7 linked regions of the Homo sapiens genome follow. Changing the gene in region 2 together with the main gene of any one other region gives a genetic interaction. Each region holds a gene or a part of one and is shown on either strand. Other genes may lie near its edges. The genes, in order: PSMB6, KRAS, CDCA8, UBTF, NXF1, AAMP and GSPT1.

The links.
Region 1: changes in KRAS (region 2) and PSMB6 are lethal when combined (synthetic lethality), as found in Homo sapiens cells (3 studies listed by BioGRID, with this or other methods).
Region 3: changes in KRAS (region 2) and CDCA8 are lethal when combined (synthetic lethality), as found in Homo sapiens cells (3 studies listed by BioGRID, with this or other methods).
Region 4: changes in KRAS (region 2) and UBTF are lethal when combined (synthetic lethality), as found in Homo sapiens cells (2 studies listed by BioGRID, with this or other methods).
Region 5: changes in KRAS (region 2) and NXF1 are lethal when combined (synthetic lethality), as found in Homo sapiens cells (2 studies listed by BioGRID, with this or other methods).
Region 6: changes in KRAS (region 2) and AAMP are lethal when combined (synthetic lethality), as found in Homo sapiens cells (2 studies listed by BioGRID, with this or other methods).
Region 7: changes in KRAS (region 2) and GSPT1 are lethal when combined (synthetic lethality), as found in Homo sapiens cells (3 studies listed by BioGRID, with this or other methods).

What each region holds. Positions count from the first base shown.
Region 1 is NC_000017.11:4,794,824-4,799,480, reverse strand, and holds PSMB6 (proteasome subunit beta type-6), read right to left. Parts: upstream 3,318-4,657; 5' UTR 3,287-3,317; coding exon 3,185-3,286; intron 2,754-3,184; coding exon 2,686-2,753; intron 2,044-2,685; coding exon 1,912-2,043; intron 1,800-1,911; coding exon 1,670-1,799; intron 1,473-1,669; coding exon 1,328-1,472; intron 1,222-1,327; coding exon of another isoform or gene 1,202-1,221; coding exon 1,059-1,201; 3' UTR 986-1,058; downstream 1-985. UniProt on the Homo sapiens protein: Component of the 20S core proteasome complex involved in the proteolytic degradation of most intracellular proteins. This complex plays numerous essential roles within the cell by associating with different regulatory particles.
Region 2 is NC_000012.12:25,205,386-25,209,550, reverse strand, and holds part of KRAS (GTPase KRas), read left to right. Parts: 3' UTR 1-4,165. UniProt on the Homo sapiens protein: Ras proteins bind GDP/GTP and possess intrinsic GTPase activity. Plays an important role in the regulation of cell proliferation.
Region 3 is NC_000001.11:37,695,272-37,699,436, forward strand, and holds part of CDCA8 (borealin), read left to right. Parts: intron 1-638; coding exon 639-679; intron 680-3,633; coding exon 3,634-3,706; intron 3,707-4,165.
Region 4 is NC_000017.11:44,212,856-44,217,020, forward strand, and holds part of UBTF (nucleolar transcription factor 1), read right to left. Parts: intron 3,850-4,165; coding exon 3,674-3,849; intron 3,135-3,673; coding exon 3,051-3,134; intron 2,955-3,050; coding exon 2,799-2,954; intron 428-2,798; coding exon 363-427; intron 85-362; coding exon 1-84. UniProt on the Homo sapiens protein: Recognizes the ribosomal RNA gene promoter and activates transcription mediated by RNA polymerase I (Pol I) through cooperative interactions with the transcription factor SL1/TIF-IB complex.
Region 5 is NC_000011.10:62,798,405-62,802,569, forward strand, and holds part of NXF1 (nuclear RNA export factor 1), read right to left. Parts: intron 3,857-4,165; coding exon 3,773-3,856; intron 3,643-3,772; coding exon 3,538-3,642; intron 3,416-3,537; coding exon 3,335-3,415; intron 3,228-3,334; coding exon 3,158-3,227; intron 3,014-3,157; coding exon 2,925-3,013; intron 2,798-2,924; coding exon 2,690-2,797; intron 2,083-2,689; coding exon 1,973-2,082; coding exon of another isoform or gene 1,918-1,972; exon of another isoform or gene 172-1,917; coding exon 135-171; intron 1-134.
Region 6 is NC_000002.12:218,263,588-218,267,761, forward strand, and holds the end of AAMP (angio-associated migratory cell protein), read right to left. Parts: intron 4,027-4,174; coding exon 3,907-4,026; intron 3,400-3,906; coding exon 3,260-3,399; intron 3,001-3,259; coding exon 2,856-3,000; intron 2,561-2,855; coding exon 2,477-2,560; intron 2,360-2,476; coding exon 2,244-2,359; intron 2,096-2,243; coding exon 1,992-2,095; intron 1,875-1,991; coding exon 1,784-1,874; intron 1,588-1,783; coding exon 1,433-1,587; intron 1,022-1,432; coding exon 946-1,021; 3' UTR 542-945; downstream 1-541. Other genes in the region: GPBAR1 (G-protein coupled bile acid receptor 1), read left to right, coding at 1-130. UniProt on the Homo sapiens protein: Plays a role in angiogenesis and cell migration. In smooth muscle cell migration, may act through the RhoA pathway.
Region 7 is NC_000016.10:11,867,250-11,871,243, forward strand, and holds the end of GSPT1 (eukaryotic peptide chain release factor GTP-binding subunit ERF3A), read right to left. Parts: 3' UTR 879-3,994; downstream 1-878. UniProt on the Homo sapiens protein: GTPase component of the eRF1-eRF3-GTP ternary complex, a ternary complex that mediates translation termination in response to the termination codons UAA, UAG and UGA.

The sequences.
Region 1 (4,657 bases), on a different chromosome or scaffold from region 2:
ACCAGGCTACTGCACTCCAGCCCGGGCAACAGAGTGAGACTCCATCTCAAAAAAAATAAAATAAATAACTAAATAAAATAAAAAAAGGATGGGCACAGTGGCTCATGCCTGTAATCCCAGCACACTGGTAGGCTGAGGCAGGAGAATCACTTAAGCCCAGGAGTTTGAGGTTACAGTGAGCTATGACAGTGACACTGCTGCCTGGATGACAGAGCGAGACTCTGTCTCTAAAAAATACATAATAATAAAATTAGCCTGAGGTGAGGTGACACACACCTGTAGTCCCAGCTATCGAGCTCCTTTATGTCCCTGGCTTGAGTGGGGACAGCTTCGGAAGGGCCAGAGTCTATTTTCAGCCTCTCATCCAAGAGGTTGATCACACCCCCTACCATGGGAATGGTGGCTTCCAGAGCTGGCCAAACCACTCCCAGTGGTTTTGTTCTCCCACTCATCATTCATCTTAAATTCCATTTGCAGACAAGGCCCACCTTTCTCCCAAAAGCCAAGGAAGTCACAGTGCTACTGCTGACCACAAGGTGAGGTAACAGAGGTTAAGTGTGGAGAGAGGGGACCATGAGGCTGGGCTGGAGGAGGCTGGTCTTTGTGGCCTTAGGGACAGTAGTCACCCAGGATGACTGGCAGGAAGCAGGCTGAAGGAAGGTGACTCCAGTTTTAGTCAGAATTCCGAGTTCCACCTTGGGCTTGAACAGGGAGTGGGTGTTGCTGGTACCCCCAACACCAACCACAATCCAGTGGTTCAAGGACCTGGATATGGTGGGGGAAAGGAAGTTTGGGGGAAGGCAATTTGGAGAAGAGGTTTGAAAACCACCCATGTAAAAGTTTACTGGGGAATAAAGCATTCATAAACTCCTTTCATCTCCTCTCCAACTTGCTCTGAGTTCAGTGCAATGGTTTTTACAAATAGGAATGGGCCAGACAAATTCGGACTTGAAGTCAAAAAAAAAAGAACCCCAAAGTACAAAGATTCTCTGTGACAAACTTTATTAAATTTTGCATCAGTACAGGGCATCTCTTATTGCATACTAGAATCCCAGGATTCAGGCGGGTGGTAAAGTGGCAACGGCGAATTTGGGTATCTGGTCTCCCAAAAGTACTTGCCGCTCTACCCCTGACTCTGCAATGGCTGCCAGGCGGATCACTCCTCCACTGGAGCCATCCCGCTCCATGGCCAAAGCGAGAGCTGTGGATAAAAGAAGAAAGCTGGGTTCAGATTCAGATGCCGGGATCACTGCAAGGAATGAGGAATGCTGGCCTGGCTTGGGTAGTTGGGGTTGAAGCTCATAGGCCCAGAAGCCTAAGCTCTCACCATTGGCAGTGAATTGCAGACACTCTTCCTTGGTCATGCCTTCCCGGTAGGTAGCATCAACATAGCCATAGATGTAGGAGCTCCCGGAGCCTCCAATGGCAAAGGACTGCCTTACCATCATACCCCCCATAGGCACTGAGTACACCTGCCAGATAGAAGGAGAGGAGTCACCAGTCGTATCCTCCCTCCAACACACGTACATTCACCTGTCCATTCTGCTATTGGTCTGAGGCACGTTAATAGTAAGAATAAGTGAGGTAGAGACTGGAAAGAAAAAGAAAATGGCTGGGGAGAGGATAAAAGTCCTGGCTCAAGTGTGCTCTGGTCGGGTGGGGATCTGACCTGCCCTCCTTCTTGAGGGTCCCAGCCTGCGATGATGATTCCCGCCATCAGGTCTTCCCGGTATCGGTAACACATCTCCTTAAAGAGGCTGGCTGCTGTGTGGACCAGTGGAGGCTCATTCAGTTCAATGCTAGAGGGTCAGGGAAGTCACAGAGAAAGTTTCAAGACCTAGAAGTCAGGCTATTTAGCTCCTCAGCTTCCAACTCCCTTCAGATACTTGCCCCTCCCCTGCCCACAAGCACCTGTGGAAACCGAGCTGGTAGGTGACAGCATCAGCTACTGCCTGGGTATCAGCAGCTGAGCCTGAGCGACAGCAGAAAATGCGGTCGTGAATAGGTGTCAGCTTGTCAGTCACTCGATTGGCGATGTAGGACCTGCAGGATGGCAGAATAGTGAGGAAAGGAGCCCACCTGTCTTCCACCTCCATCCCATCACTACCCACTCTCTTAGGGCTCAGGGATAGGATGTCCAGTATTGCCTTTTTTTCCTTTTTCTTTGAGATGGAGTCTCGCTCTGTTGCCCAGGCTGGAGTACAGTGACGCGATCTCTGCTCACTGCAACATCCACCTCCTGGGTCCAAGCGATTCTCTAGCCCTAGCCTCCCAAGTAGCTGGGACTGCAGGCACGCACCGCCACGCACGGCTAATTTTTGTATTTTTTAGTAGAGACGGGGTTTCGCCATGTTGGCCAGGCTGGTCTCGAACTCCTGACCTCAGGTGATCCACCCGCCTCGGCCTCCCAAAGTACTGGGATTACAGGCGTGAGCCACCGTGCCTGGCCTCCAGTATTGCTTATTCTCATCCAAACTGAAGCGGGCTGGAGAACAGACTTTTGTAAGGATTCCACTAACGAGTGAGGGGAACTGAAAGTAACAAAAGTTGGGACAAATCTTTATCTCCAGAGAGAGAAGAAACCTCTCTTCCCACAGTGGTCTGTGGAGGCAGGCAGGGTGGGCTGGCAGGCAGGAAAGGAAAAGGAAGATGGGAAGACCTTTCACAAATCTGTCCTGAGCTCACCCAGTGGTTGTTCTGGAGTCCGCCCCCAGAACCACGCCCCCGTCAAACTGCACGGCCATGATAGTGGTCTGGGAAAAGGGAAAAAGGAGTAAGTCTACATTCTCCAGCAGACACAAACCTCAATGATCTCTCTACCTAGTTCCAAAAATACAAAATCTGTCCGTCGCTGAACCATTTTCAAATCTTATAGGGGCCTCAGCACCCCGCAGAATACCAGAATGCCAACCCTCAAATCTCAAAAGACTCATCCCGTACTTAAGCCCAAGATCCTCACTAGCCTCGCAGGATTTCAGAATTTCAAACTTCAGCCCACCCTCCACCTCCCACTACGAAGCTACCGCACCACTCCACCATCTTCGGGGTACCTCTCCCCATTCCTGGAGCACAACACATTCCACCTCCTCTCCACCCCTGCCAGATCTCTCAACCCCACTCAGGCTTTATCTTCCCATCGCGTCAGGCCTTGTGCACGTCCTATGAACCCCGATTCCTTCCTCACCCCAGTGGAAACTTCTCGGCTTTCCCAGTCTGGAGTGAACGCCTCCGGCCCCCAAGCCGGTGCTGGCCCGGCTCCCCGAGCAGCTAGTAAGGTAGCCGCCATCTTTCTCCTCCGGTACTGCCTCAAAGCAACTGTCGTAAAGCGCTCTGTCACGCTCTTTGGTCGCGCTTTGAGGCCTTCTGGGAGCGAAGCTACTCCGAGGTTGACGGCAGAAGGGAAAAGAAAAGTACAGTACTGCATGGGGACGGTTCTTTTGCGACAGTGAGCACTTGATGGCAGCGTGGCAAGCAACAAACAAAACAAGAAAGTCAGCAAAACCCCCCCCCCAAAAAACCAAAAAAAACCCAAAAACCGTTCGGCACTTTGGGAGGCTGAGGCGGGCGGATCATGAGGTTAGGAGTTCAAGACCAGCCTGGCCAACATGGTGAAACTCCTTCTCTACTAAAAAATACAAAAATTAGCCGGGCGTGGTGGGGCGCGCCTGTAATCCCGGCTACTGGGGAGGCTGAGGCAGGAGAATCGCTTGAGCCTGGGAGGCGGAGGTTACAGTGAGCCGAGATCACGCCACTGCACTCCAGCCTGAGCGACAGAGCAAGACTGTCTCAAAACAAAAGCAAAAACAAAACAAAACAAAAAACAGTCCTAGTGGCTTGCGCCGTACCGATCTTATGGAGTTACAGTCCAAAGGGCCCACAAAATAAACCTGAGAGTCTTTGGGCTAAAGTGACCACACCATGTTTTCATTTCTTTTAGTTATATACTTAGGAGTATATGCTGGCAGAGGAATTTATGGGTTCTATGATAACTGTATGTTTAACATTTTGAGCAACCGACAAACTGTTTTCCACAGAAACTGCACCATTTTACATCCCTACAAGCCATGTGTGAGGGTTCCAATTTCTCCACATCCTCACCAACACTTGTTATTGTGCATTTTTTTAGTTATAGCCATTCCAGTGGGTGTGAAGTGGTACCCTGTGGTTTTCATTGGTATTTTTCTAATGATTAGTGATGCTGAGCATATTTCCATGAGATAATTGGCCATTTGTATGTCTTTTTTGATGCAATGTTTTTTCAAGTTCTTTGCACATTCTAAAATTGGGATATGTCTTTTGTTTAATATATTTTTGGGGTTTAATTTTTTTTTTTTGAGACGAGGGTGGGGTGTGTGTGTGGGGTGGGTTTGTCTTGCGGTGTTTCCCAGGCTGGAGTGCAGATGGGATCATGGTGCACTATATCAGCCTCGAACTCCTGGGCTCCAGTGATCCTCCCGCCTCAGCTTCTCAAGTAGCTGGGACTACAGGTGTGTGCCACTGAACCCAGCTCTATTTGTCTTTTTTTTTTTTTTTTTTTTTTTTTGAGACGGAGTCTCGCTCTGTCGCCCAGGCGGGACTGCGGACTGCAGTGGCGCAATCTCGGCTCACTGCAAGCTCCGCTTCCCGGGTTCACGCCATTCTCCTGCCTCAGCCTCCC
Region 2 (4,165 bases):
TAAGATTTCTGTCTTGGGGCTTTTGGTGCATGCAGTTGATTACTTCTTATTTTTCTTACCAATTGTGAATGTTGGTGTGAAACAAATTAATGAAGCTTTTGAATCATCCCTATTCTGTGTTTTATCTAGTCACATAAATGGATTAATTACTAATTTCAGTTGAGACCTTCTAATTGGTTTTTACTGAAACATTGAGGGAACACAAATTTATGGGCTTCCTGATGATGATTCTTCTAGGCATCATGTCCTATAGTTTGTCATCCCTGATGAATGTAAAGTTACACTGTTCACAAAGGTTTTGTCTCCTTTCCACTGCTATTAGTCATGGTCACTCTCCCCAAAATATTATATTTTTTCTATAAAAAGAAAAAAATGGAAAAAAATTACAAGGCAATGGAAACTATTATAAGGCCATTTCCTTTTCACATTAGATAAATTACTATAAAGACTCCTAATAGCTTTTCCTGTTAAGGCAGACCCAGTATGAAATGGGGATTATTATAGCAACCATTTTGGGGCTATATTTACATGCTACTAAATTTTTATAATAATTGAAAAGATTTTAACAAGTATAAAAAATTCTCATAGGAATTAAATGTAGTCTCCCTGTGTCAGACTGCTCTTTCATAGTATAACTTTAAATCTTTTCTTCAACTTGAGTCTTTGAAGATAGTTTTAATTCTGCTTGTGACATTAAAAGATTATTTGGGCCAGTTATAGCTTATTAGGTGTTGAAGAGACCAAGGTTGCAAGGCCAGGCCCTGTGTGAACCTTTGAGCTTTCATAGAGAGTTTCACAGCATGGACTGTGTCCCCACGGTCATCCAGTGTTGTCATGCATTGGTTAGTCAAAATGGGGAGGGACTAGGGCAGTTTGGATAGCTCAACAAGATACAATCTCACTCTGTGGTGGTCCTGCTGACAAATCAAGAGCATTGCTTTTGTTTCTTAAGAAAACAAACTCTTTTTTAAAAATTACTTTTAAATATTAACTCAAAAGTTGAGATTTTGGGGTGGTGGTGTGCCAAGACATTAATTTTTTTTTTAAACAATGAAGTGAAAAAGTTTTACAATCTCTAGGTTTGGCTAGTTCTCTTAACACTGGTTAAATTAACATTGCATAAACACTTTTCAAGTCTGATCCATATTTAATAATGCTTTAAAATAAAAATAAAAACAATCCTTTTGATAAATTTAAAATGTTACTTATTTTAAAATAAATGAAGTGAGATGGCATGGTGAGGTGAAAGTATCACTGGACTAGGAAGAAGGTGACTTAGGTTCTAGATAGGTGTCTTTTAGGACTCTGATTTTGAGGACATCACTTACTATCCATTTCTTCATGTTAAAAGAAGTCATCTCAAACTCTTAGTTTTTTTTTTTTACAACTATGTAATTTATATTCCATTTACATAAGGATACACTTATTTGTCAAGCTCAGCACAATCTGTAAATTTTTAACCTATGTTACACCATCTTCAGTGCCAGTCTTGGGCAAAATTGTGCAAGAGGTGAAGTTTATATTTGAATATCCATTCTCGTTTTAGGACTCTTCTTCCATATTAGTGTCATCTTGCCTCCCTACCTTCCACATGCCCCATGACTTGATGCAGTTTTAATACTTGTAATTCCCCTAACCATAAGATTTACTGCTGCTGTGGATATCTCCATGAAGTTTTCCCACTGAGTCACATCAGAAATGCCCTACATCTTATTTCCTCAGGGCTCAAGAGAATCTGACAGATACCATAAAGGGATTTGACCTAATCACTAATTTTCAGGTGGTGGCTGATGCTTTGAACATCTCTTTGCTGCCCAATCCATTAGCGACAGTAGGATTTTTCAAACCTGGTATGAATAGACAGAACCCTATCCAGTGGAAGGAGAATTTAATAAAGATAGTGCTGAAAGAATTCCTTAGGTAATCTATAACTAGGACTACTCCTGGTAACAGTAATACATTCCATTGTTTTAGTAACCAGAAATCTTCATGCAATGAAAAATACTTTAATTCATGAAGCTTACTTTTTTTTTTTGGTGTCAGAGTCTCGCTCTTGTCACCCAGGCTGGAATGCAGTGGCGCCATCTCAGCTCACTGCAACCTCCATCTCCCAGGTTCAAGCGATTCTCGTGCCTCGGCCTCCTGAGTAGCTGGGATTACAGGCGTGTGCCACTACACTCAACTAATTTTTGTATTTTTAGGAGAGACGGGGTTTCACCCTGTTGGCCAGGCTGGTCTCGAACTCCTGACCTCAAGTGATTCACCCACCTTGGCCTCATAAACCTGTTTTGCAGAACTCATTTATTCAGCAAATATTTATTGAGTGCCTACCAGATGCCAGTCACCACACAAGGCACTGGGTATATGGTATCCCCAAACAAGAGACATAATCCCGGTCCTTAGGTAGTGCTAGTGTGGTCTGTAATATCTTACTAAGGCCTTTGGTATACGACCCAGAGATAACACGATGCGTATTTTAGTTTTGCAAAGAAGGGGTTTGGTCTCTGTGCCAGCTCTATAATTGTTTTGCTACGATTCCACTGAAACTCTTCGATCAAGCTACTTTATGTAAATCACTTCATTGTTTTAAAGGAATAAACTTGATTATATTGTTTTTTTATTTGGCATAACTGTGATTCTTTTAGGACAATTACTGTACACATTAAGGTGTATGTCAGATATTCATATTGACCCAAATGTGTAATATTCCAGTTTTCTCTGCATAAGTAATTAAAATATACTTAAAAATTAATAGTTTTATCTGGGTACAAATAAACAGGTGCCTGAACTAGTTCACAGACAAGGAAACTTCTATGTAAAAATCACTATGATTTCTGAATTGCTATGTGAAACTACAGATCTTTGGAACACTGTTTAGGTAGGGTGTTAAGACTTACACAGTACCTCGTTTCTACACAGAGAAAGAAATGGCCATACTTCAGGAACTGCAGTGCTTATGAGGGGATATTTAGGCCTCTTGAATTTTTGATGTAGATGGGCATTTTTTTAAGGTAGTGGTTAATTACCTTTATGTGAACTTTGAATGGTTTAACAAAAGATTTGTTTTTGTAGAGATTTTAAAGGGGGAGAATTCTAGAAATAAATGTTACCTAATTATTACAGCCTTAAAGACAAAAATCCTTGTTGAAGTTTTTTTAAAAAAAGCTAAATTACATAGACTTAGGCATTAACATGTTTGTGGAAGAATATAGCAGACGTATATTGTATCATTTGAGTGAATGTTCCCAAGTAGGCATTCTAGGCTCTATTTAACTGAGTCACACTGCATAGGAATTTAGAACCTAACTTTTATAGGTTATCAAAACTGTTGTCACCATTGCACAATTTTGTCCTAATATATACATAGAAACTTTGTGGGGCATGTTAAGTTACAGTTTGCACAAGTTCATCTCATTTGTATTCCATTGATTTTTTTTTTCTTCTAAACATTTTTTCTTCAAACAGTATATAACTTTTTTTAGGGGATTTTTTTTTAGACAGCAAAAACTATCTGAAGATTTCCATTTGTCAAAAAGTAATGATTTCTTGATAATTGTGTAGTAATGTTTTTTAGAACCCAGCAGTTACCTTAAAGCTGAATTTATATTTAGTAACTTCTGTGTTAATACTGGATAGCATGAATTCTGCATTGAGAAACTGAATAGCTGTCATAAAATGAAACTTTCTTTCTAAAGAAAGATACTCACATGAGTTCTTGAAGAATAGTCATAACTAGATTAAGATCTGTGTTTTAGTTTAATAGTTTGAAGTGCCTGTTTGGGATAATGATAGGTAATTTAGATGAATTTAGGGGAAAAAAAAGTTATCTGCAGATATGTTGAGGGCCCATCTCTCCCCCCACACCCCCACAGAGCTAACTGGGTTACAGTGTTTTATCCGAAAGTTTCCAATTCCACTGTCTTGTGTTTTCATGTTGAAAATACTTTTGCATTTTTCCTTTGAGTGCCAATTTCTTACTAGTACTATTTCTTAATGTAACATGTTTACCTGGAATGTATTTTAACTATTTTTGTATAGTGTAAACTGAAACATGCACATTTTGTACATTGTGCTTTCTTTTGTGGGACATATGCAGTGTGATCCAGTTGTTTTCCATCATTTGGTTGCGCTGACCTAGGAATGTTGGTCATATCAAACATTAAAA
Region 3 (4,165 bases), on a different chromosome or scaffold from region 2:
AATCCTAGCACTTTGGGAGGCCAAGGCAGGAGTATCACTTGACCCCAGGAGTTCAAAACCAGCCTGGGCAACATAGCAGGAGACCACATCTCTACTTAAAAAAAAAAAAAAAAAAAAAAAAGACAACCTGGACAACTTGGCGAAACCCTATCTCTACAAAAAAACACAAAAATTAGCCGAATGTGGTGGCGCATGCCTGTAGTCCCAGCTACTTGGGAGGCCAAGGTGGGAGGATCAGTTGAGCCCAGGAGACAGCCAAGGAGGCGCCACTCCACTCCAGCTTGGGTGACAGAGCAAGACTCTGTCTCAAAAATAAATAAAATTTAAAATATATTTTTTAAAAAGAAAAATAAGCAGAATTTTTGGGGTGATGTTTGAGCTGAGTTTTGAAGGATGAGTTAGAAATTTGTTAAGTACGGAGGTGAATTTCAGGCAGAGGAAATACAAAGTACCATGGCAACAAGTCATGAGAGTCAGTGGCACATTTGGGATATAACTTGGAGAAAGAATAGATTAGATGGTGAAGGTCCTTGAAGGTTAGACCAAGGGCTGGACCAGTTTTAGAAAGATAAATGGTACTATTAGGCAAGATGATTTATTGTTAAAATGTAATAGTAACTACAACGTTCTTTTTAAAGCCCTTGGAGGAAACAAACAGGCCCTGGAAGAGGCGGCAACAGTAAGTGACCTTTCCTATTTTCCAGCCAGTGGTTACTTAAGTCTAGTCCAGTCCCCAGATCCAACTAATAGATGCTTACTGTGGAAGAGGTTTCATAAAGGGACATCATCTGTTTGTGTCAACTGAAAAATTAGAGTTGGACCAGACACTGTATACATGAGACCCAGATAGTTCTGAGCCCTACAGAAGGTGGCAGTTCTGTTTTTGACCAATTTCTTGCAGTCCTTTGTTCTGAACTCTACAGCGGAAGTAGAAAGCCTCAAGCCCAAGTTCCTTTAAGCGCCTGAGTCATTACACTATGCATTGGCCTGCTAGATGATAAAGGTGTTTCATCATGTCGTACTGTAGAAGCAGTGCTTTTGCTTGGGATGCTCAGTATTCCCCAACCCCTCTCATCTCCTTCCTCCCAGCATCAGTGCCAGGATTGAAGGCAGTAAGATGGGGATGCAAAATAGAGCATTTAAAGCTGCACTGTCCAGTGTAGTAGCCACTGGGCATATGTAGCTATTTCAGTTAATTACAATTAATAAAATTAAAGAATTCATTTCCTCAGACATACTAGCCACATTTTACATGTTCAATACCTACATATGACTAGTAGCTACTCCATCAGAGAGCACAGAAATAGAACATTGCTACTCTTGCAGAAAGTTTTATGAGACAGCATTGGGAACTAGTCCATACATGGGCTTCACAGAGTCCCTAGGCACTCTAAAATAATATACAAACAATGCGTGTGTATGCACGCATTTGTGTATCTTTCTGTTAGTTTATTGTAGCCTTGATCAGATTTACAAAGTAAACCCCAAAATTACATCTTTTGTTGAGTTGATCAGAATCATTTGGAATATCAGGGTTTGAAGGAGTCTGACCACCAAGGGCACATAGCAGATCTCCGCCAGCTTCATTCAGAAGGTAAAGGTAATGAGGAGCCAATTATCAATTTGGAAAAAATTGGAGCATTTGGGAGAGAGGTGGGGATTATTCACCCCCCTACATACACTGAGCTCCAATGTTTTAAAAGAGTTACCTCTGAGATGAATTATGCTTACTAGCTAATGCAGTTCTCTCTTTTTAAATTAGAAATACAGAACTGCAAATGAGAACTTCTAATGTAATATGAGAGAGCCATTGTTACCACACCAAGTTGAGAGAATTCTAGCCTTGACTAATATGATTTAAAACTCCAGAAAGGAACGATAGAAAATCTATAAAAGCTCTTAGTTGGGAAGTGTGTTGGGGCTCCCAAGACCACCTCCAGGTTTGGTGATTCACTAGGAGGATTCATGGGGCTCAGCATACAGTCACACCCATGGCGATGATTTATTACAGTGAAAGTATACAAAGCATTAATCAACAAAGGAGAAAATTGCATAGGACAAAGTCCAGAGGAAACCAGGCTTCTAGGAGTCCACTCCCTGTAGAGTCAAACAGAACATGCTTAATTCAACACATATGAAATGCTGTCTACCAGAAAATCTGATTAGAGAGTCAATGCCCAGAGTTTTAACTGGGGGCTGCTCACATAGGCATCCTCTGCCTAGCACATGTCAAAATCCTAGACTTTCAGGAGGGAAGTAGGTGTTCAGCATGAGCCATATTGTTTGCATAAAGTTTAGGCACAGTGAGGCATCTTGTTAAGGAAAGGTGGGAATCTTTCTGAAATCAAGTTCCCAGATGCCAACCGAGGCCAGGCTTGCAAACAGGCCTTTCTATGTGTATCAGTCTCAGGCCTGCTCTGTTAACTGTCCTGCACAGTAGATGCCCAGTGGCCTGCCACCACTGATGACTCCATAAAATGCCAGTTGTTTCTAGAGATGGCAGAAGGTTGGCAGGAATGCCCCTACTTTCTGTTGCATCAAGCCTGGCAAACATCAGTAACTTATTACAGCCCTATTTCTTGCTAAGCCTAAGACAGCCTCAGAATCCTTCTCTGAGTATGTCAAGCAGTCCCTACCAGAAATGAAACCTGTGCCATTCCAAACCTGTAGTAATTATTCTGATGTTTACATGTGTTCTATAAGGAAAGGACTGTGAATCATGACTGCTCTTTGTAGTGCCCATACTTATTACCATATGAAAAAAAAACGAATTTGAATGGTGACTGGAAGCCTTTTTGAAGGACCCAGGATCATCATAGAAAACCTTATTGAGACCCTGTAGATTTATCGAAAAAATGGTAAGCTTGACACACCACCAAGTGTTGTAGAGGATGTAGATCATTAGGAACTTGTATTGTTTGCAGATGGGCTGTAGTCAAGGGTAACCACTTTGGGAAACAATTTGGCATAATGCGAAGGCTGAATATTTATGTAACCTATAATCCCTGTCATGTCCTATCCAAAGGATAGAGCCAAGGGGAAACTTGGACATGTACCTCAGACACATGTAAGACAGTTCAAGGTAGCAGTGTTTATAATAGCAGGAAACTATTGATGGAAGATGGACAAATCCATTGTGGTATATTCACACAGTGGGATATGATATAGCAATGAAAACAAATTAACTACAACCACAAAGAGTGGTGAAAACAGCCAAAACCAAACAAAATGCTTAAGTACACACTTGTGAAAAAGCACATCTGTGTGTGCACACATGTATACACACATATGCATGTATCTGTGAGCACATACACATGTACCTTTCGATAAAGCAAGTGCAATGATATGGTTACCCCTGGGGAATGAAGGATTAGGAGACTCATCACCTTTGGAAGAAGAGATAAGAAAATGGAACAAGGAATGAATACAGAGCCAGAAGCAAGTTATTGGCAATGTTTTAGGTCTTGGGCTGTGTGGTGGGTTTATGGGAGTTTGCTATATTGTATATTGTATCACTAACATTTAACAGTCTTATGTATTAAATAATAGTTTTAAAAAAGTTTTTATCTTGAAATATTGTTCCTCATATTTTGGTGGAATAAGCCTGGTGCTTTCTGGCTATGTTTGTCATAGGCTGACCTGGATATCACCGAAATAAACAAACTAACAGCAGAAGCTATTCAGACACCCCTGAAATCTGCCAAAAGTGAGTACCTTTCAAAACTCCTTGTTGTACAGAAAGAACTGAGGCTCAGGTTGCTTGGTTGGCTGCTCAGGCAGCGCCTTGTTGGTAGAGCCTCTTCCCTTTAATGTCTGGTTCTTAATCTTGTAAATCCAAAAACTTGCTTTTGGATGGTGCATTTAGTTAATTTTTTTTCCCCCGAACAGCAATTCAAACCAGAAATTTAGTTAATTTTAGGCAGGACTGCTAAAAACCAAACTCAAGACCCGTGTGCGAGCTAAAATGAAAGTGAAAAAAGGGGGGAAAAAAGCTGTGCTAGAAACCAAACATTGTTGCCTGCTTACTTTCTCCTGGGTTAAATAGATGACAAGATTTAGAGAGGTGTTAAAAGACTGGTAACACCAACTGAGACGCTCCCTGATGTAATCAACAAAGTTGAAAGCGAATTGAAAAAGGAATGACTTTCTCTGCATATAATTCAAA
Region 4 (4,165 bases), on a different chromosome or scaffold from region 2:
GTGTACCACAGCTGCTGGGGGGTTTTGGGCTTCTCTGGGATGTCCGATTTCTTGGCATTCTGGATTAGGTCGGGGTGATCCTCCCTAGCCAGGACACGGGGAGCAAGGATCAGCAGGGGACGCTGCCAGGGCAGACTCAAGCTAGCTGCCCCACCCACCAAGCCTCCTGGGCCTTTCAGCTGGGGCTCAGTGGGACGGTGGCTGCCTGCCTGTCTCTGTCCCTGAGCATGACACACTAGGGCTCACATGTGACCCATCCTCTTCCATGCCTCAGAGATGGCAAACTCAAGGCTCTGGCCAGGGTTAGCCTATTCTGCTGCCCCCAGTGCCCCGTGGCCCTCCTCTGGGCTCCACTGCCTTACCTGAATCGGGCCAGGTTTCGCTCGAACTCCTGTTTCTCTCTCTGGAAGTCCTGAATATATTTCATCTGGGGGGAGGAGGGGATGGGGTCACTCAGGACCCAAGGGTATCTCACCCTGAGCTATGAAGGCCACCCAGACCCCTCCTCGCTGGCTCTTCTGCCTCCCACGCTGTGATGCAGGGAGTGGAGGCTGGCGCCCTGCCCGCCTCCTGGCGGGACTCACCACAGAGCAGACCTGCTGGCTTCTACCACAGATGGTGGGAGCTGCAGGGGTCGCCCAGACACTGAATCCTACATCCTATTCTCTCCTTCTGAGCAAGAGTCCCAGAAGGGGGCCATGGCATTACCCACGGTCACACAGTGCGCAGTGGCAGCGCTGAGCCTCCCCCACTCGTTTCTCCAACACCATAGAACTCTCACAGTGGCGTCGGGTGCAGGCCTTGCTCCTGTCACTCCCTCTTCTCACTGTCTGTGGCAGCTGACATTAGTCTGTCCCCTTGTACGTAGCCTCTACATCTATGGCCAGGGCTGGGCTGAGTCCTGTTTCCAAGGCATGAGGGGAGATTGTGTGGAGGGGAACCCAGAGCGAGTTCTTCCAATACAAGTCTCAGCCAGCTACCCTGCATCTTCCTGCCCAGTTCTCACACCATCACCTTCTTCTCTTTCTCCAGGATCCTGGCTGTCTGGCCCCTCCAGCCCTCCCTCCCTCAGCCCACTCATTCTTTCCCACCACTTGGCTTCCCTTCCCTTCATCACCCCCTTTTTAGCCTCCCCACTCTCACCTCACTCCCTCCCTGCATCTTTCCCCACTTCTCCATAGTCTCCTTCTTGTTCCTCCTTTCCAATGTGTCTCTTTCTCTTCCTCATCGACCTTCTCTCTTGGCTCCCACACAATGTCCATCTCTTCTTTCATCCTCGCGGGCTCACAAGAGTGGCACTGGCAGGTGCCAGGAGCTCATGGCAACTGAGCCCAACCCCTGCCTCTTATAGAAGCACCAGGCATAGAAAGGCAGTGCTCCTTTCCCACAGTTCCCACAGAAAACCAGAAGCAGAGCTCAGCCTCCTCTTCCCCCATCTCAGTCCTCCTCAGACAAAACAGTTTTAGACCTGAAGGGGACCACACAGACCTGGCTCACCTCACATAAAGACCAGGCCCACAGAAGTGAAATGACTTACCAAAGGCCCCATACACAGCGGTTCAGTGGCAGAGCCAGGAGAACAGGCCCAAGTCTTGTGTCCCCCAGGACAGCACCTTGTCCACTCTACCAGTTTCTTCTGGCCTTCCCTGGCTCTGACTCTAGAGCTTGGCCTCTCCCTCCCATCCCATGAGAGTGTTTGGGTGTGTGCAGTCAACTGTCCAACATCCTCATCAAAGGGGTCAACAGTTCCAGCAATCCATACCCCTCTCTGCTTGGGCAGTGGTTGCAGACAGCTGGCTTTTTTGGGTACAGCACCAAGGGCATGTGAGTCTGCAGCCAGGGTATGCCAACCAGGAAAAAGGGCTACTCATAGCATGGCAGCGGCCAGTGCCCCCTTTTGAGAACTGGCTGTGTATGACTTTGTTTCCTCTCCAAGCAGATGTGCTTCTTGTCTTTCCTGCTGCCCTTCCCCATCTATCCCTGGCTCTGTCTCCTTGTCCCGTGTCTCTTCTTTGTGTCCTCTGTCCCCATCCCATCTTCCTCGTGTCCCATCTGCAGGCTCCTCCAATGTTTTGCTGCCTATCTCTGGGAGGGACCTCCTGAGCTCTGTGACTGAGCCCTGCCTGGGAGGCTTAGGCAACCCTCCACCCAGAGTTAATGCTTTGATGGTCTGGGACAGTGCCCGACCTCTGCAAGGAACAGTATGAGGCCAGGAGGGACAATGTGTGTCCTTGAGTGAACACGTGTGCGTGGAGAAGTGCACTTCACAGGTGGACGTGGCAGTAACAGCACTGGACTGGGACTCTGGGGCACTAAATCCTGCTCTAGCATCAATAGTTGTGTCACCCGGGACACTTAACCCTCCTGCACCTCAGTTCCTTGCCCACAAAACTGGGATAACCTTTTCCTAGGGTTACCTTTATAAAGACATTGCAAGTATCAAATGAGACCATGACGGGAAACGTCATAGAGGGTGAAGAAGTGCTGCGGAGCCTAACAGTGAGGATGGGTGTATGGGGGAGAGAGAGCTTGAAACAGAATGCTGTGGGTTTTCTGTAGGGGGAAAGGTTGGTCTGAGCACCTGCTGTCTGGTTTACATCTGTGATGGTGCCTGTGCCTGACCATGTGTGGGCCGAGGAAGGGGCAATCAGGTGTGGCTGCCCAGGACCTATTCTGCTGTGCTGACTCACCCTCATCCCTGATGCCAGGTTTCTCCAAGGCCTACCTCCAACTGACCCACACCACACCAGCTGCTCCCAGCCTCTCCCCTCCTCCCACCTTAACTCTCCTCCCCCCACCTTCTTCTTCTCCGGAAGCTCCTTGTATTTCTTGGACAGAATCTTGGTTAGGTCCAGGTTGCTCATCTCAGGGTGGAGTTTCGCATACTTGGCCCGCTTCTCCATGAAGAAGCGGAAATAAGGGGTCAGGGGCTTCTTTGGGAAGTCTGGGTGTTTCTGGAAGAAGGGACAAGGACACAATGGAGGTCAAATACATCCCTTCTTTGGACCTTTCCTCCCATACCCCTCATGCTCCTCCTCCTAGTAACTCACCTTGAGTTTTTTGCCTTTGTAAGGATTTTTAACATGTTCCTGAGCATCGAGGATCAATTCTGTCAATGTACGGAACTTCCTCACCTGGAGGAAGAGGGGTGGGAGGAAGGGGAAGTTGGGAAAAGGAAAATGCCACACAGTAGTATACCCCCATCTTATAACGGGTCTCTTCTACTCTTTACTAGACTAAATTTACCAAAGAAGAGCAGAGGCCAACAGCCAAATGAAGCAGGCAGCATGACACCCAGGCACTGGCCCATGCCTACCGCAGAGGCCCAGGCAGTCAGTACACACCAAAGGCCAGCAACAAGGGGACTAACTGACCTCAACCTGGTTGTCCATGCTAACACCTCCGTCAATCTCAGCATGCTAGCACCTCCGTCAATCTCAGCACAGCTCAGGCTGTTTGGCTCAAGACCACTCAGATAGAAAGTGGCATAACTTTAAGCCAGTGCTGTCAACCGTGCCACCTCCCAAAATGCAAAGGGGCAGGTAGAGAGCTAACGGGAGACCACATGAATGCCTCTCCTGGTCTCTTTCCTTCCTGTTTACAGCCTGTTTCACTTCCCCCACCACGCTGAGTGGGGGGTATGTGTGTATGTCAGAAAAGGGGGATCAGTTACCTCATTAGAAATCTCCACCCATTTGAGCTTGCACATGTCTCCAGAAAAGTCTTTAAATGCTACTTTTTCCCAGTCCATGTGTGATTCGGTGGTTTTGAACTTGGAGCTGTCATTGGATGGAAGGTTGTTCTTCATGCATTCCAGCAAAGTCAGCATGTCTTCCTGGGACCAACGGTCTGGTAAAGAGTAACAGAGGCCATCATGCCTGGCTCATGCTATCCCCCCGATCTGTTCCCCAGTTCTTGAGTGCTCAACTCTTCCTCCCTAGGGCATCCCAGCCCCTGGTTGCTTCCCATCTGAAGGCACAGACAAGATATGGCTCAGCCCTAAGGAAACTGTGGCCATATTGGATCAGGGCAGGGACTCCAGTCCAGACCATGCTATACCTAGAAAGCCAGGCTCGAACTCAAGTCTGGCTTGCTTCAAGGCTATTATCATTTATACTGTGCCAAGCTGCAACGGGCAGCTATTTGCTGTAAGGGGAAGAGGGGT
Region 5 (4,165 bases), on a different chromosome or scaffold from region 2:
GCCTGGGCGACGAGTGAAACTCCGTCTCAAATAAAAAAAAAAAAAAGAAAAAGAAAAAGAAAAAGAAACCTATCCAGGAATCCTTGTGAGTGAGAGATGCTGTGCTTGTTAGAATGAAAAAATTATGGACTTACCAGGCGTAGTAACTTGGGAAATCGTTCGCGAATGGCGCTGTCAAGAACGGGACAGAAGTGAGTGATGCTTCAGAGCCACCGTGCCTCCTGGGCTGCTCTAGGAGCAAATATACCAAACCCGAGGGACAGCCCATCCCATCCTGCTCATCCCTCCACTCCCTCCCAGCCTGTGCTCAGGGAAAAATGGCCCCCACTCCCCACCTGACCCGGGGCACCCAGACATGGACTGCCTTGAAGGCTGTCTCTTTTCTCTCTGCCTGACCCTGAGTGTCAAGGAGCAGTACTCCAAGCCCAGGCTTTAAGCCCAGGACCTCTTTCCCCTCCCTGCCCCCCTTACCTTCCACCTACTCACCTGTGCAGCCCCGGGAGGAGGGAATGGGGTGGGAGCCCAGGGGCTCCGCTGCCTCACCAGGTATCCATCAGTTCTGCCAGGTCTGGCTTTGGCCAAGACCCAAACACACCACAGGGATGGCACAGGATGTTGGGGCAGGGAGATGAGCAGGTGGGGCTCAGGAAGAGGAGAGGCAAAGGAATAAGAAAGGAAAAGGAGGAAAAAGAGAAAAAGGCAAGATGGGGCAGGGGCAAGGGAGAGATGGGGAGGTATAGGAGACAGACAGAAAAAGGAAAGAGAAAGCAAAGAAAAAGAGAAAGAACTACAAGGCAAAAAAGCATCTAGAAAAATGAGGGAGAAAAGGGAGAAAGACACCCTGACACAGCCCTTTCTTTCAGCTGCCCCATCCCTGTGGTCCAAGGTAGAAATGAGAAACAAATCCTTGCTGTGGTGAGTGGGCACTTGCTGTTGGCCAGGTCTCTGTCTGCTACCTGGGTCCCGATCTGAACTGGGCGTGGGAAGCAAAGCAGCCATGGGGGCAGGAGACCTCCCTCAGAAGGTGTGAGGGTTCAGGCCCCTGTAGGATTGTGGGGGTGAGGGTCCATGCCCCACCTCTGTTGCCCCCAAGTTCTCTCCTGATGGCCCCTCTGCGACTGTGCCTGTCTTAGGTTGTTCCTTCCCTGAGGAATCTTACCCGTCTCTGGCTAACCAGCCATCCACCGGGGCCAAACAGGGTGACGTGCAGTGTGTGAGTGAGGGAGAGGCAGCGCCCCCGAGGGGGTCAGTTCTCTGTCTCCTTGGTAGCCTATGCCCCCGTGGCCTCCACGCCCAGCACCTGCCTTGGGATTCCCTCGCCTGCTGGCGGGGCCCCAGCTCTGGTCACATCTTGGGGAACCCAGGTTTCTTCTTCAGGGAGAGCCCAGCTCATAGCACTGGGCAAGAGAGACAGATTGCATGCCACCAGCCCCTAGGAGGCCTCAACCTCAGCATGGACAGCAACAGCCCTGGGCAAGTGGATCCTGAGAAAAGGGTCCCTCTTGGCGCAAGGGCAAGAGGGGCCATCACAGTACAAAGGAGGGAAGGCCCATCTCAGTAGGAAGTCCCAGGTAGGGAGGGCTTCCTCAACCCATGGACACCAGGCTCTTGGCACAAGGCAACCCCATCTATAGGGTATGTACAAGATACCCTCTGGTTAGAGTAGAAAGGGGAGATGCCTTTCCTGGAACAACAGGGTAGGGAGATTCTAGAAAAGGTTGTGTTCAGGAAGAAAGAGAAAGGCCACAGACCCAGCAAACAGATAGTCAAGTCAGAAGAGAAGAGAGAACATCTCAGGACAAAGCTGGAAGACACAGACAGACCAAAGTGGGGAGCACGCGATCCTCTCAAAGGACAGGTGGTTCCAGCTCAGGGCTGCACATCTCCGCAGACGGGCCCTGGTCAGGATGCATTAGCTCAGCCTCCCAGGGGGTGAAGGTCCCCAGGAGGGGAGACACAGGCTACAACTGACCTGATGTAGGTGGACTGGTCTCGGAAGGTGTCACACAGGGAGTTTCCATCGAGCCAGAGCTCTTCTAGCTTCAGCCCCTTTATCTTGTCCAATTCCCGCTCAGACTTCAACTGCAAAGGGTGGAAGGAACAAAGGGAGGAGACCCTGGTGAAGACAGCCAGCTGGCTCCCCATACCCCCAGTCCCTACGCTTAGCTCTGAGATCTTTTCTAATCTTTTAAAATTTTTTCTTTTTTTTTTTTTTTTGGGACAGGGTCTCACTCTGTCACCCAAGTTCAGTGCCGTGGCATGATCATAGTTCACTGCAGCCTCAAACTCCTGGACTCAAGAGATCCTCCCACCTCAGACTCCTGGGTAGCTAGGACTACAGGCATGTGACATCATGCTCGACTAATTTATTTTTTAAATTAAAAAAATTTTTTTGAGACAGGTTGCTCAGGCTAGAATGCAACGGCACAATCATAACTCACTGCAGCCTTGAACTCCTGAGCTCAAGCAATCCTCCCACCTCAGCCCCCTGGGGCAGCTTGGACTAGAGGCGTGCAAACTCCTAGCCTTAAGTGATCCTCCTGCCTTGGCCTCCCAAAGTGTTAGGATTAGAGTTGCAAACCAGCACATCTGGCCTGAGTTCTCTCTCTTGCCTCTTGCCATCACTGGACAAACTCTCTACACCCTCTACCCACCCCTTCAAAAATATAGCCGAGCTATCAATTCTCACTTCATTTCCAGAAAGGTTTAGGATCTTCAGGTTGGGTGCCTTCTGAACAATGCTAGACATGTCATCCAGCCTGTACAGCCTGTTGTTGCTCAAGTTCAAGGACAATAGCTGTGAGGAGAGAAGAGTTTAGAGGAGGCACCACCAGCAAGTGGATCAGAGACGAATCTGCCCTCCAGCCACTTCCTATCTAACACACCCTGCTTCCTCATGCCTAATACTGGGCCAAAGGCCTTACCTCAGGGATGTTCTCTTCAATGATCCTCAGGGTAGCTGCCATACAGCTTCTGCGATTCAGGACAACGTCAATGTTCTGGGCCACCAAATCTTCAGGAAGCAGAAGGGAAGGAAAGGGAAGACTGAGAGGGTTTGCCCATGCCAGCATTAGCAGTAAAACATCCTCAAACTTTCCCTCCCTGACAGATCCCACCTTATCACCACCTATCTGAGAACTACTGCTGTCAACCATACCTGGGTCTGAACGGAGGCCTTTGAGGTCAAGGGCTTGTTGGGAGCCATCGTATCGTTTGCTCATGATCAGCTAGAGGAAAAAGAAGGGTTTAGTGGTCACTGGGTTTGTGTGTGGGGGGTGGGGGTGTGAGAAGTAGTAAGACTGGGTTGGAAACATCTAATTTGAGCCTGCCTCACCTTTAGCTGTTCTACTTGTTCTGGCTTCAGTTCATTCAGTATAGTGTGGGGTGGAGCAGAAGAGTTGATGATGATAGATATCTGGAGGGAAGACACAGAGGGCACAGAAAACTCTAGGGAAGCCTAAGCCGCAAGAACAAGACCCAGTCCCTGCTCTGAGCACCAACCTCCACCTCCAGCCAAGCCAGGCCCTTTAAACACACCCTTCGGTTCTCCCGATCCAAAATCTTATAGTTGACAGCCTTCAATGCAGAGGCAGTACTGGCGTCTTCAACGAAGAACTGGGCCCGTGTATTCTCATAGTGAAACTACAAGAGGAAACAGGAGCATTACACTGGGAGTCCAGAGCCCTTGGGGAGGGGCATTACGCTGGGAGTCCAGCTTGCCCCTTCACCATCCCTGGTGCCTGGCCAGCCAGCCACTCAGGCCTTGTCTTACCTCAATAGGGGTGAAGGGCACACTGCACTTGCTCTGAATCATGCTCAGGAGCCATGCCTTGTCATACTTTCTGCCATAAGGAATCTAGAAATGAGAGAAAGAGAAAAGAAGGGAATGATAAGTAAGGCTGAATAGCAGACCCAATACAATGCCTTTTATACCTTCTACCAAACTTTTAAAGACTATCTAAAGAAAGGACCAGTACTAGGTTTTCTACTTGAGATACACATAGATTCTTTAACTCCTTTCTGTCTACTTACACTTACTATTTTTTCTTAGTAACAGGGCCTCACTCTGTCACTCAGGCTGGAGTGCAGTGGTGCGATCATAGCTCACTGCAGCCTTCATTTCCTAGGCTCAAGCGATCCTCCTGTCTCAGCTTTCTGGAGTAGC
Region 6 (4,174 bases), on a different chromosome or scaffold from region 2:
AGCCCCCTGGAGGGCAGCCGCCCAAAGGTGCCTGCAGGGGCTGTGGGGAAGAGCCTCCCGGGACAGTCCCGGCCCCAGCATTGCCTACCACCCAAGCAGCCAAAGCAGTGTCGACCTGGACTTGAACTAAAGGAAGGGCCTCTGCTGACTCCTACCAGAGCATCCGTCCAGCTCAGCCATCCAGCCTGTCTCTACCGGGCCCCACTTCTCTGGATCAGAGACCCTGCCTCTGTTTGACCCCGCACTGACTGAATAAAGCTCCTCTGGCCGTTTATGATTATCTCATTCCATATCTCAGGGCGAGGCAGGAGGAAATGGCTCAACACACCAACAATAGAAAGAACCTACAGACATACGCGTGGATTAAGGCAGAGTCCGACTCCAGGCAGGCAAGAAGTGTCGTGCGCACAGACCACCCCTGGAGATGGGGAGCTGGCACATCTCAACATCCAGCCGATTCTGCGGGACAGCCTTGCCCTGACGGGGCCCTCGCTAGCTCCTCCTAGGGTCCAGCCATCACAAAATCCACACAGACTCTGTCTCTGGGAAGTATATTTTATTTACATTTTTAAAATCTTTAACTAGTATCTCTTCCTCCTTTCCACCCCCAGAGACTTGGGAAGGGAAAGAACGGGAACCTCAAACACCTACTCCCCACATACAAATACACACCCCATGGCTCACACCAGCAAATGAAAGTGAAAGAGAAACAGGTCCACCCCTCCCTCTGAAGGGCCCACCAGGTCTGGACAAGGGTGGGAGGGCCCTGGGCTGGGTCTCTAAAGAGAAGAAAAGGAGAGGGGAGCAAGTCAGTTGAAGAGGCTGGAAAGTCATCCAGGGCCCCACCCTCCTCTTCCCTCTGTGCCCTACTGCCTCTGCTGGCAGACAGGGGCAGGGGTCCCTTCGTCCCCTCAACACCAGACACACAGGCAGGGGCTGCAGCCATTAACGGTCAGGCCTTTGGACACAAAATACTTTCGCTTTGTGGTCTCCTGACGTGGTCACCACCAGGGAGGCATCTCTGTAAACAGAAAGCATGTGATTGCAGAGACTGGGGGACCCAAGCCCACCACCTAGGGGCCCTAGGGTGGGCTCCTCCAGCACACCCTCAGTTCTAGGGCCCTAGTGCCTAGCACTGGGCCGACATCTCTGCAGCCAGCATGGAGGGGATTAGAGGAAGCCCCCAGCACGGGAGAAGCAGAGCTGACTCCGATGGGGAAAATCAGTCTCAGCCTCTCCCTCATGACTGAGACGTGGGGCCCCGGAGGGTCACTGTCAGCCACTGGAATGGGGGCTGGGCTGTGAACCCTCAGGCTTCTCTGCATTCCTGCCTTAGGAATCCCTTCCCACACCCCAAGGATCCTGTGTCCCCTACATACTACTGCCACCTTCCAAATACACAAAGATCCCAGCCCTTGGCCAATTCACTTACTTGCTGAGGGCAAAGTCCAGGATCTCAGCCGTGTGGCCCCGGTAGTCAGTAAGCAGGCGGCCGGTCCGGGCGTCCCAGAGGCGCACGATGCCATCCAGGCTGCAGGTATATACCACGGCAGTGCCTGCCTCCCACAGCAGCTGCACGATGCCCGACTGCCCCGAGGAATGACAGAGGCAGGGCGGAGGTTGGCAGGAGAGCTGAGAGCCATCTGCTCCCAATTCTCAAAGAGGGACAGCCACACACAAGGGCCAGGCAGGAGCCAGATCTGGGGTAGATGCTCCTGGAGGCCTGGGCTTCCCCACCACTATGGACACAGCCCACAGGGACCCCAGCTCCAGCTGCCCATACCTGGTGCTGACACTGATGCCTAAGAGTCTGCGTAGCCAGGTCATAGATGGCCAAGGTCCCATCCAGGTAGCCAACAGCTGCCAGGGGCATCCTGGCCAGAGGAGCGTACCATGAAGACTCATGAGGGCCTGGACTCACACGCCCTGCCGTCCTCCCGGGCCCCCAGCCCAGGCCCCTCCCACAAACCCCTTTCCCCATCCTCACTCACACACTGCAGAAGCCCAAGGACTCCACCGAGTTGGACTCACTCTCCTCCCCTTCTCCCAGGCTGGGCTGGGAGGCCACAGTCTCAGGTCTAAAAACACCCACCACCTGAAAGCCAGAGAGGATCAGAGGAGGACACGGAATCCGGGTGCTTGATGGAGAGAAAGACGGTGGGGAGAGGAGACAGTGAAGACCCAGGAAGGAAGGAGAGGAGTCGGGAAAGCGGAGGCCCCAGCCGGGCTCCAGGTCCACTCACCTTGCCGGTGGTGGCACTGACCAGCTTGGCCTGGCAGTCCACAGAGCCAGTTAGGATCAAGCTGCCATCCTGGTTGGCAGCAACACAGGTGAGTGGGCCCTGGTGACCCTCAGTCCCTAGCATAGAGCAGGGAGGCAGCTCAGGCTTCGTCCTACCTCCCCTCTGAGTCCTGCCCCAGGTTCTCAGCCCCTCCCTACAAAGGCCCAGGCTAACACTTCCCCCACCTCTGATACCTTTCAGTACATGGATAGGGCTTCCCTGCTTCAGGTCCCAAATCCTGATGGTCCCATCTTCATAGCCTACCACAGCTCTCTTCCCTGAAGAGAGGCACAGATGAAGAGAGGGCAGAGGGCACGCTCACATACACTAAGCAAGGGAATGGGGAGAGGGAGAGGAAAGAAGAGTGGAAGGGCCCAGACACTGCCCCAGGAATCACAGGTGAGTTCAGAGCAGGAAGGAGGCGCTGTGAACTTTGGGGCCCAGGAGGTCAGCACTGCAAACAGCAGGCCTCAGATTTTGCCGGCTGTGACCCAGAAGGCTGCTCTGGGAGGTGTATATCCCGGGATTCGGCCTCTGCACCCAGGAAAGGTCACTCAAGGGAGGTGCTCTCACCATCAGGGAGGACTCGGCCACAGGTGGCTGGGCAGTTGGGACCCTGGAAGGTCTTGCAGTCACCATTCGGGACTTTCCACATCCAGGTGTTGCCGTCAGCTGTGCCCGCCAACAGGACAGGTGCCCGAGGATGCCACTCCATCCACTGGACAGGGAGGAAGGGGCAGCAGGGAGGCCCGTCACCCCATCCCACCTAGAAGCCTGCCCCATGAGCTCCACCCAAGGTTTCCTGCCTCTGGGGTTCCGCGGGGACTTTCCAGGTAGCAGGTAGATATTCTTCCTGTGCCTTGGGGCGCATTGGCTCAGAGCTGGCTTGGCGCAATAAAGGCAGAACTGGCCTCCCAAGCTTGCACCCCCAACAACCCAAGGCCCCACAGAGCTGACTCCCGCTCTGATGATCTTACCTCCAGGTCTCCCGCTTCAAAGGACCAGACCTCCTCCTTAGTGTCCACCTGCCACACTTTCAAGAGGCCACTCATGTCCCCTGTGGCCACTAGAGTGGAGTCATGGCTGAAACCAGCACAAGTCACAGAGTCTTTATGGCCTTCAAAGAAAAGTGGGCAGAAAACAGAGGAAAAAAATAGGGTACCTGGTGCTGGGGGCATGTGATTCTGGTATCTGGCCCACTGAAAGGACCAGCTAGGAAAAAAAGAGGGGCGGGACTGAGCAGAACAGGTGCTGGAACTCACCACCACTCTAGGAACCAATACTCCCATGTCTGCTGGGAGACACTGCTGGCCCTCACTCAACCAGACCAAGTCCCAGCCTCCTATGCCTTCCCCCTTCTGTCCACTCTACACCTCTGCCCGCCTGCTCCTATACCAATGTGGCCTTCTCTGGCCTTTCCTGGATTCCCTTGGCCAATTAGTGCCTCCTGCCTCTGTGCCCAAAACACACTAGTATTCGCCCCGTGTCCCTGGGGCCCAGCACAGAGCTGGCACAAAAGAGATGTCACTAAGTGGCTGTTGGATGCACAACCTCTGCAGGTCAGCCTCCTAAGATCTCCCAAAAGAATATGACCTCTCCCAGGCCTCTACCCCAGCCCCCTCACCTGCACACTCAAAGAGCAGCTCCCCATCGCTGAGCCGCCATACGAAGGCTTTGTCATCTTCACCCCCGGTCACTGCCAAGGTATTGGTCTTGGGGTCCAGGCTCACACAAAACACAGATGCTGTCCCAAGAGATATTCCATGGGTAAGGGGACAGAGCTCCCACCTAGGGCTCTGTCCTTCACAATCTTCAGGAAACCCACCCCCTTTCACCCAAAGCGTGTCTTTCCTCCTGGAAAACACAGGTACATCCAAGTTCTTCTAAGTTTC
Region 7 (3,994 bases), on a different chromosome or scaffold from region 2:
TTTTGTATTTTTAGTAGAGACGGGGTTTCACCGTGTTAGCCAGGATGGTCTCGATCTCCTGACACCGTGATCCACCCACCTCGGCCTCCCAAAAAGTGCTGGCATTACAGGCACACGCCTCCACGCCCAGCTAATTTTTGTGTTTTTTAGCAGAGACTGGGTTTCACCACGTTGGCCAGGCTGGTCTGGAACTCCTGACCTCAAGTGATCTGCCCGCCTCAGCCTCCCAAAGTGCTGGGATTACAGGCATGAGTCACCGTGCCTGGCCTGAACCCCTACTTTAATAGCAAGCTTGGTCCCAAGTTTTAAGCTATGATTGGTTTAATGCCAAATACCTAGAGGCTGACTGCCAAAACCTCAAAGCGATTCACCTAAAGACAGTTCAAACAGGAACTTAGTACACAGGAATGAACTGCTGTCATTCAAGTAGCCACTGTGTATGTTACCTTTATCATTAACTTCTTCTTGCCCTTGCACATTGAATGAAAAGGGCAAGCACTATTTGGTCTCTTGATCTTTATTAAAAATCCTGAATGTAGAGGTTCATAGTTCTAATAATAATTGACGTTTCCCCCAACTCTACTGTTCACATAAAACCACATAACTGTGATCTAGTTATTTATTATTCAGCATCCCTAACTTCCTATAGGGTTCTTATTTTTGTTTCCTAAGGTTGTCGTATACATTATACAAAAGACTTGCATGCCATATGCAAGCAGATGACGTTTGTGAATCCCTTATGTGACAGAGCTTATTAGATCCATCCAACAAACCTTTTGGTAGATGGTTCCAGTACCTGATACAAAAATAAAAGGATTGTACAAAAAAGGGCATGGTTTTTGCTTGTTACAACACAGGTAATTACAAACGACAAATCCTTCAAAAGGGAAGATGACAACTTTTATTGTTATTACAAAAGCAAATTTAATTTGTCATTTGAATAATTGCAAGAGCAGACTAAGGGCTTAATCCTCACACAGGCACCAAGTCAGGCACAGTAGGTAGCTACAAATCGTAAGAAAAAGCTTTCTTTCCTACCTAGAGCACTCTTCCATGCTTTGGAATTAGGCTAAAAAACTCAACAAACCTGATCAGTTCCCTTTAATCCTGTTTTTTTTTTTTTTTTTTAAATGAGATCTAGGTATTAACCTGCTGTCTAGCGAAAACTAGTCACTAAGTCCTGGCCTGAGAGATACCCACATTTCCTTTAGAACAAACAGAACTAATACCTGTGTACATTTCTGAGAGCCTGATGTGTGAGTCCTTAAAATGTAGACCTTGCAGGAGGCTTAGACCTCAGTTTCACCTAATGCATGTGGAGGAAATGGAGGTGAGAATAGTCACCTGAAGAGTGCAAGCGCTCCAGCTCCAGCACACACACTCTTCCCTGGGCAGCAGGAAAAGGAGGTAACAAGGACTTGGGCTGACATCTGAAGCACTAAGCTAATGTGCCTGGTAGAGGGGAGCCTCAGGAAGCACAAGATGTCATTCCACCTGTGCTGTCCACAAACCTGAGGTTTCCACATCGTTTTAAAGGGCACAGTGGCAAATGTGACAAGGCAGAAAACAATAACCATTTCAAGGATCACTTAAGGAATCCTGGTGTTTTCTGCCTAATCAGAAGTAGTACCAACCTGCTTTTCCCTTATATTGGAGAACATAAAGGTTTTAATTAATCTCCACTCCCACACCTTCAGGCCCTTATAATAATCCTTAGTAAACAACTCAGCTAGCATTATTGTTTCAAGGAAGCATAGGATTAGAGGTATGTGAGAAGTGTATTTATTGAAGGGAAGACTCAGTAAGTTCTAGGATATTAAAGTCAAGAATATCCTAGAGCCAAAAACCACCAAAAGTTGAACCAAATCTACCTGAACTGAACTGATAGTAAACTGGGTCAAATGGAATCCACGGAATTACTACTGGAAAATAAAAACACTTCCTATTCTTTCTATTCCTATTCATTTACTATGAAACCTAATCTAACCAACTGACTGCTAAATGTAAAGCTAGTTAAGTCTTTTGTGCATGTGCAATTACACTTACTTAACAAGATGCTGCCATGGCGAGATCTCTCACGAAAGAAACAAGATCAAGGATGTACTAGATGGCATCTGCTAGAATCACTGAAAAAGTTAGCTGCAAGAAATAAAAGCCTATTATTTGGAGATAGATAATTGTCCCCTGAATCCACTGGTTGTTCTCTTCCTTACCTATGTCTGTGAAAGGATTAATGGCACAGTTTGATAAGGTAAGCCAACAATGAATATAACATTTAACCATCCTAAAATCAGAGCTATAGTGCTATAACCACATTTTTCACAAAGGGTTTTAAAGTTGAAAGTTGCCTGATGTTAAGACCTGTAATAAAACTGCGTATTTTCCCCTTGACTACCTTAAATCCCTACCCAAAGCAATGAAGCTATCATCCATGAAGTAGCAGTCCATGAGGAAGTCCATGCCAGTAAGAAAAGGTGCTAGAGTGCTGTTATGTGTAATAGTCATCAAAGATCACGGAGTAATTCCAGTCATTACTAGTGTTCCTGCAGATCGCCAAGGGAGCTTAGCTGATTTTTTTCCAGGTTCATCTTGGGAGCAGTTTTTGATCATAGGTTCAACTTTTTTCTTGGGTTGCAAAACTGCATCTGGCTGCAAGTCTAACCCAAAATATTCGCAGCGTATCAGCTGAGAGGATGCCGGCAACTGTTGAACTACATCACAGTTCAAAGTCCCATATTGTGAGAGCAGTACTTGTAGTTTATGTAACCAGCAAATATGAGTTACCTCGTTACAGTGAACAACCTGCACTGTTAGAGTTTAGGAACTTTTGACATTCGGTTATCACATATTTCAAAGATTTTCAACTCACAAAAAAAAAATACATGGGCTTAATTACTCAGTAACACTTTACTATTTGTCACTTAATCTCAAGACAATACACACTCAGTCCAACTCTTTTGGTTTGATTTTACATAGATTTTCACTTACTTCTGCAAATTAAAAACAAGAAATGAGTGCTGTATTTCCCCCTCTCCCACAGTAAGAAACAAGGGTTTAAAATGGCAATTACTTAGATGTTTATTTCAATATTTCTTAAATTCACTTTATTAATTTAAAAAACTAAATAATCGCATGAAAGTTATATAAAGAACATCATTAATGTGAAAAGATGCAAGAAAAAAATCATTCTAGTAGAGCAACGTTAGAGAACAAATGCTTAGGTAATACCCTAAATATGCAGCCAACTACCCTATTTTTGCACTGTTGACCATATAAGCACGTTTGCATTTGCAGAAAACAGAATGACAGCATAGGAATTTGTATTGCTCTATAACGGTCCAACATCTCCACATAATGCCAAGTTCACCTTAGACATTTTATTTACTTATCCAAATGAACAGCCTGTGTAAGCAGGATTGAAAATGCATCAACTTTAAAAAGATGAGAACAATTTTCAAAGCCCATAGAACTTATGTTGCTGGTTAATTTTAGCACTGAAATTTCTTTTGAATAATCTAATCTTGCAAATATGCAAGAATCCAGTGGAATTTTTACAGTTACATTTGTATTTGTATGACCTGTTACTTTTTAGAGGTAGGCCCTTCACAGTTGATATCCAAGTTACTTAAGAGTCTTGGCAACATGCACATAATAGTCTAACAGTGTAAATGTTTTAGTAGCAAACATAACTTATTTTTTAAAAATGTGTTCTATTTAGAAAGGGAACTCTTATCTCTGGAAGTGATTTCCGTGGCTCTTGAACTTTTAAATATTCATTAAAATTCAAGCAATTGCTAGTATTTGTTTTTATTAACATGGAATTACAAAAAGAACTATTATGTTTTGATTAAAGCTCCTATATTTTCCAGAAAAATAAAAGCCCAGAGATTTGCAGACATAATAAAATCTATTTAAATTTCATGCAATAGCCATAATTATAGTTTTAAGAATCTGTAGGACAATAACTTTGCTCTGTCCATAAGATGTAGCCTCA